Regions from separate parts of the Homo sapiens genome. Here region 2 is linked to region 1. Evidence: fine-mapped expression QTL. A gene starts in region 1. The other region holds a variant in brackets. All regions are shown on one strand. Distances are from middle to middle.

Region 1 (2,903 bases):
AGGAACTGCTTGTTACATGTTCAGAGTACTTTCCATCCATCAACTCATGCCCATTTCAGTCTTCCAAAGTCAACAGCTCCAGCGTGCCTGGTCAGTGCTGAGCCCAGGACTCAACACGGGTGCTGCAGGTTGCTTAGGGGCACGCCAACATTTCAAGGGCTATAAACGACAGACCAAGTGTCCGCTCTGTTTAAGAGACACAAGTGGAGATAGGAAAGAACCTTTGACTTAAGTGTGGGGGTGGCAGGGGCAGGAACTGCCCCAGAGTTGGCCACCGTGGGACCCCCATTGCTAGGGGCTCTCTCCTGTCACTTAGCATCTTTCCTCCCCACCGCTGGCACGCGGCGTGAATGGCAGGGCACTCCAGCAGGACGAGAACAGAGCTCCGTCACAGGCCCCCAGCATCCCCGGAGAGAAGATAGAGCCGCCCCACGGCCTTCACAGGAGGGGGTAAGGGGGCGGAGAGGGGAGAGGATTGTTTGTTTATTTGTTTCCTGGAACACCCTGTTAAGAATCTCAGCAATTGCAGTTAGTGCCCTATCGTTTGGCAAGCAGAGCCGCTTCTCGTCGTTCCCAGCTGCACGGGATCTAATTCGCAAATACACCATCTTGCATTCAATACTTAAATGGAAAACAAGCAGCCCGGGGAGGGAGGCAAAAAGTCTGAGTCTGCATGCCCGTTTCGGAGGGATTTAGGTTTCCAGGTCGGTGGACTGGCTGCTGCTGTCCCCGGAGAGGATTTCTTTGAGCCCGAACCCTGTCTCACCTCGACTACAGAACCCACTCTGGCGGAGGTTACGAGCCGCAGTTAAAGAGAAAACGGGATTTGGTTGGGTCTTAGGCCTTGCCAGTACAAAATAGTAACAAAAATCTGTTTGAGAGCTGAGATTTTAAAAGGAGATGCTGCTTATTCTTCCCACTGGAAACCTGGTTAAAAGAAATTAAGGCCTCTCTTAAAGGTAACTAAGATTAGAGGGCTCGGTTTCCGTTTTCTGTGTTTCTGTGGGCTAAACGCCCAGGTCGGTCAGCGAGTTTGTGTGGAATGACGAATTCCTCTCCCCTGAATTCTAAAATGATAACTTTGCTTGGTGCTGCAGCTGCGAACGTCTGGCGCCAAGAGACCCAATTCTGGTCGGGGCTTTGCTGGATGGAGAAGTGGGGGTGAGTGGGTAAGGGGGAAGAGTCGTGCCTCGGTGAAAAGTCGGGAGAGCGGCGAGAAGGGAAGTAACGGCGGCTCCTCCTGGCCTCGGCCCCTTTAAGTGCTTCACTGACTCAGCTAAGCTTCCCCCTCAGGTCGCGTTTTTTATGAATGAAAAACGTCCTTACATTCATTATATAAACAAGCCTGTGCTGATTGGCCAATGGCCCCCGGTGCATAAATTATGTAAAACAGACCCCTGAGGGGGTGGAGAGAGATGCACCGCTGGCCAATGGGGGCCGGAGTTGATGGGGCGGCTTGGTTGGATTTGCCCGCAGACAGGGTAAACAAGAGGTGATGGACAGCCGCGGGAACGGCCTCTGGCCAATGGGAACAAGGCTGGGCTAGGGCCGCGGGCCAATGGCGGCGGGCGGAGCAGCGAGCCGCGGGGGGCCGGGCCAGCGCTCCAGCCTGGTTGGCAGCTGCGGCGCAGAGTCCAGCCGCTGGTGCGCGGAGCGGTTCACCGTCTTCGGAGCGGTTCGGCCCAGCCTTTCGCCCAGGCGCCCAGGCCCGCTGCGCGCGTGCGTGAGCGCGCCTGCGCCGCCGGGGCCGCTGCAAGGGGAGGAGAGAGGCCGCCTCAGGTGAGGGGGCTTTGCGGGGGCAGGGGGGAGATCGGAAGGGGCGTCCGGCCACTGGTCCGACAGGCCCAGCCGGCTAGAGTTCACGGGCTGATTCAGAATCTTCAAAGTCGGGGTGCAGTAGCTGGGGTGACCCCCCCCGGGTTGACCGCCCCCTCCCCCCGCGGCCCGGTCCGGTTTGGTTCCTGGGAGGCGTCGGGCGGGTGCGGCTAACGGTTCCGGAGCGCGGGGAGAGCGGCTTTCCACACGTCGTGGGGGAGGCGCCCCGGAGCGCGAGTGCGGGGGCTCCCGAGTGGATGGGGGATCGCGGAGTTGCGAGGCTTTCACAGTCTCTGGAGATTCGAGAGCCCCGAGGGGACTTGGAGGCTCGCGAGAAGAGACGCTTGGCGGAGCTCCGCAGTTGGGAGGAGGGGGCGGGAAGCAGTTTGAGGGGAATGTCTGAGAGGCGCTGCCCCCCAGAGCACCGGGAGGGGGTAAATGACACAGGCAAGTGCAGCCTGCGGGGGCGGGGGTCGACCAGGAACTTACGCAGGCCTTGCAAGTTTCAGGTGGTGGAAAGTGGACATCCAGTCGCCCTGCTCCCACCCAGCAGGCTGAGGGCGTCCGGCTGTGCGGCGACTCGAGAAAATCGGGGCGCACCGGAACAGCGGCCTGGGGATGGTGGGGATAACACGGGTGTGGAGGGGACAGCACCGAAAGATGCTGCAGCCTCGCAGCGGATTAGGGTTCCGGCCGCATTTTCAGAGGGTGGAGAAAACTCGGGGGGGAACCGAACTCCTGGTCGACGAGGGGGTGCCAGGGAGAGATGTTGGGGGTGGGGGGATTGGAAGCGGTTGGTAGCGCCGGGCGCCGCACCTCGTTTTTATGAATGTGGGTGACTTTATGAATGAAGCGGGTTTCTTTCGTTGGCTCGCTGCTCCCTGCGGCTTTTTTTTTTTTCTTCCCTTTTTGTGAATGAAGCATTGAGCTTTCTTCCTAAAACGCTGGGGTGAGGGGCCTGCGTCGGAGGCTGGGCGTGCGTTGGAAATGGGGGCGGGGGCGCAGCTGAAGGAGTTTTCATGAATGGGGAAGGCTGAGAATTGGGTGGAAGTGTGTCTTGTTTTGTGAATGGGGCCCAGCGCTAGAGA
Region 2 (2,903 bases), 43 kb before region 1:
CCTGCTAGCCCCTAATTTGAGGGTAAGGGACTGATATCTCTTTGACTGGAAATGAGGATATGATTTCATACTTCTTTCGGTTCTATAGTAATAGAATCCACAAAGCTGACCAAAATATTATGTTACCCAGGAGCCCCAGACTCCTACCCTGTCAAGACCTTTGTCAGAACCGCTGAAAAACAAGCAGGAGAGATTTGAGTTTTACTTCCTCTTCCGTGCCCTGGAGGTACTAACTAGCAAATAAATAGCTCAGCTAAAGGGATAAAAAAGAGAAGCAAGGGTCTTGTGTCATCTAAATAAAAAAAAAAAAAAAAAAAAGGCCGGGCGCGGCAGCTGGTGCCTGTAATCCCAGCACTTTGGGAGGCCGACACGGGCGGATCATGAGGTCAGGAGATCGAGACCATCCTGGCCAACATGGTGAAACCCCGTCTCTACTAAAAATAAAAAAATTAGCCAGGCATGGTGATAAGCACCTGTAGTCCCAGCTACTCAGGAGGCTGAGGCAGAAGAATCGCTTGAACCTGGGAGGTGGAGGTTGCAGTGAGCCGAGATTGCATCACTGCACTCCAGCCTGGGTGATAGAGCGAGACTCTGTCTCAAAAATAAAAAAATGTGGGGGAGGGGCTCTACCAGCGGGAAATGTAGGCACCAGCTACCATCCTCTGCTTCCAACAGAGCCATCTCCACTGCCAGCACGTAGGGCTTATCAGTCAGTACTTCCACAGTGTGTTGTACCCTGAACAGGCACTGCACTGGCTCAGAGAGTGCCGTGGTGAATAAGCTGAAGTCCTTCCCCTCATGGGCATGGGAGATCAGGAGTGAGAGAAGGCTGACCACAGGGGAACATGCCACAAACGTGTTCCACAGGGGAACAAAGAATGCTACATTGCATGCCACAGATAAGTGCTGTCCGAGTCTCCAGTCTCCAGCCTATGCCTCGCTTCCGTGCGTCCTGGGATAAACATAATGCCCACAATAAGACACACAGCACAAAATGATGTTGATGCATTCTCGGTTTTCTCCTCTGGTGACTATCAAAAAACAGAGACTCTCTCCCCTTTTAGGTCTCTGGGCTGGTGGAAGCCAACATAAGGATCATTTTCAGCTTTTAGCACCAGGTTATGCTAATTGTCCACAGTGTCTTCTGGTTCTATCCTTCCCTTCCATTTCCTGGAGCCCTTTATTTTTATTTTATTTTTTTGAGATGGAGTCTCTCTCTGTCGCACAGGCTGGAGTGCAGTGGTGCAATCTTGGCTCACCACAACCTCCGCCTCCCGGGTTCAAGTGATTCTCCTACCTCAGCCTCCCACGTAGCTGGGATTACAGGTGCCTGCCACCACCTCCAACTAATTTCTGTATTTTTAGTACAAACGGGGTTTCACCATGTTGGCCAGGCTGGTCTCAAACTCCTGGGCTCAAGTGATCCGCCCATCTCAGCCTCCCGAAGTGCTGGGATTACAGTTCCTGGAGCCCTTTCAATGTAAACCTGGCTTACAGTAGTGCCCTCTTAGCCAGGCACTCACTACCCCAGCTCACCTTGACAACAGCTGTTAAATAATTTCCCTCAAACTCTTTTCTTTTGTGTCATGTTATTCTCCAGCACAGAATGCCATCTCTCATGCTTCCTC[A/G]TTTCTTCATGTGAACCCAGTCTTTCTGCCTCCCTTTAAAACCCCACACCAGCTGCCCCACCTGTGTCCATGACCACATTTCTCATAGTTTGCCCTGAACTCAACCTGCTCATCTGTGACTTCTCTACCCACTCCCTTTTCATCAACACATTTCCTTTCCTTCCTTCAGATTTTAAAATTCTTTCCTCCTTGTTCCCATCAGACTTTTCTCATTCCATGCCCACCTTGTTTTGGACACCACTTGGTTTAGCCGACATTGATTTAAACTCGTTGATGGTTCTGTGTTCAAGAGTTCTGTTGTTCCCTGCGGTCACACTGTCATTTCCTATAATGTGGTAAAAACCACAAGAATGAGTTCATAGGTTCTGTTTCTTTTGACATCCATCTTTCTCCTTCTCTTTCTCCATAAGACAAGGATTTTACTAACTGTTACTTTCCATTTTACAGTTTACAGTGGGCTTTCATTGACAATCTATTCTTTGATCTTTGTGAGGAAAATAAGACAAATGTTATCCTCCTCATTTACAGTTCAGTAAGCACTGGCTCTGAAGAGTCAATGATTCATCTAAATGTTCACAGCAAAGAAGTGGAAGTGTCTGGACTCAAACCCAGGTCTTTGAATTCTAATTGCTTCCTGTTCCCACTTCATCGTCCTACTCTGAGCATTATCATACTTAATAAATATTGTGGATGGATAATGTAGATTATTAAGGTGGCAAGGCCACACTCAGGTAGGAATTAACTATTTCAAAGCCATGACCTGAGGATAAGGTTGGGAATAAAGGCAAAAATGAGAATACATCAGTGTCTTTCACTTCTGATTGACTTAAAGTTTACAGGAGGAAACACTTATAAACCCTAAAATTTAAAGAAAAAAAAGTTTTAAAAAGAATTTGGGGTCTTCCCTCGAAGGCCAAGAAAAGAGGAAATACATAAGGCACTCAATTGGGAACTCTCCACATAATGGTGCTTGGTCAGAGGTCAGACCAAAGCCTCGGTCACTTGATTGACATCTCAGCACTGCCTTGGCAGGAATGACCAGGAGCAATGGAGGCTGGGAATCTGAAGAACTGGGCTCTAATTGTGCTGCTGCTCTGTTTGTGAACTTAGGCTACTCTAATGGGCTCCTGCAGAGGGGTCGATTGAGTCCCTGAGGTCTCCTCTGGCTGTGACATTCTGAGAGTCTGTGAATACCAAGAACACAAGACAGGTGTGAGCTGATCACCACGTGGGAAGCTCACACCTGTCTCTCCCCAGTGCTTCCGCCCCTCACTT

Evidence for each region. PIP is the estimated chance that this variant, and not a neighbour inherited with it, causes the effect.
Region 2: its variant is the best candidate, but not a certain one, in a credible set for the expression of ETV5 in whole blood (TOPMed, PIP 0.68).

What each region holds. Positions count from the first base shown.
Region 1 is chr3:186,107,816-186,110,718 of GRCh38, reverse strand. It overlaps ETV5 (ETS variant transcription factor 5), which reads left to right and starts at 1,630. Exons shown (of 13, transcript NM_004454.3): 1 at 1,630-1,779. RefSeq lists silencers at 1,318-1,947, 1,978-2,077 and enhancers at 1,111-2,089, 2,848-2,903.
Region 2 is chr3:186,150,377-186,153,279 of GRCh38, reverse strand. The region is part of intron 24 of DGKG (diacylglycerol kinase gamma); the gene reads left to right. Among named protein-coding and RNA genes, the nearest start is that of ETV5, 43 kb to the right of the region's middle. The variant A/G (reference allele first, on the strand shown) is at 1,629.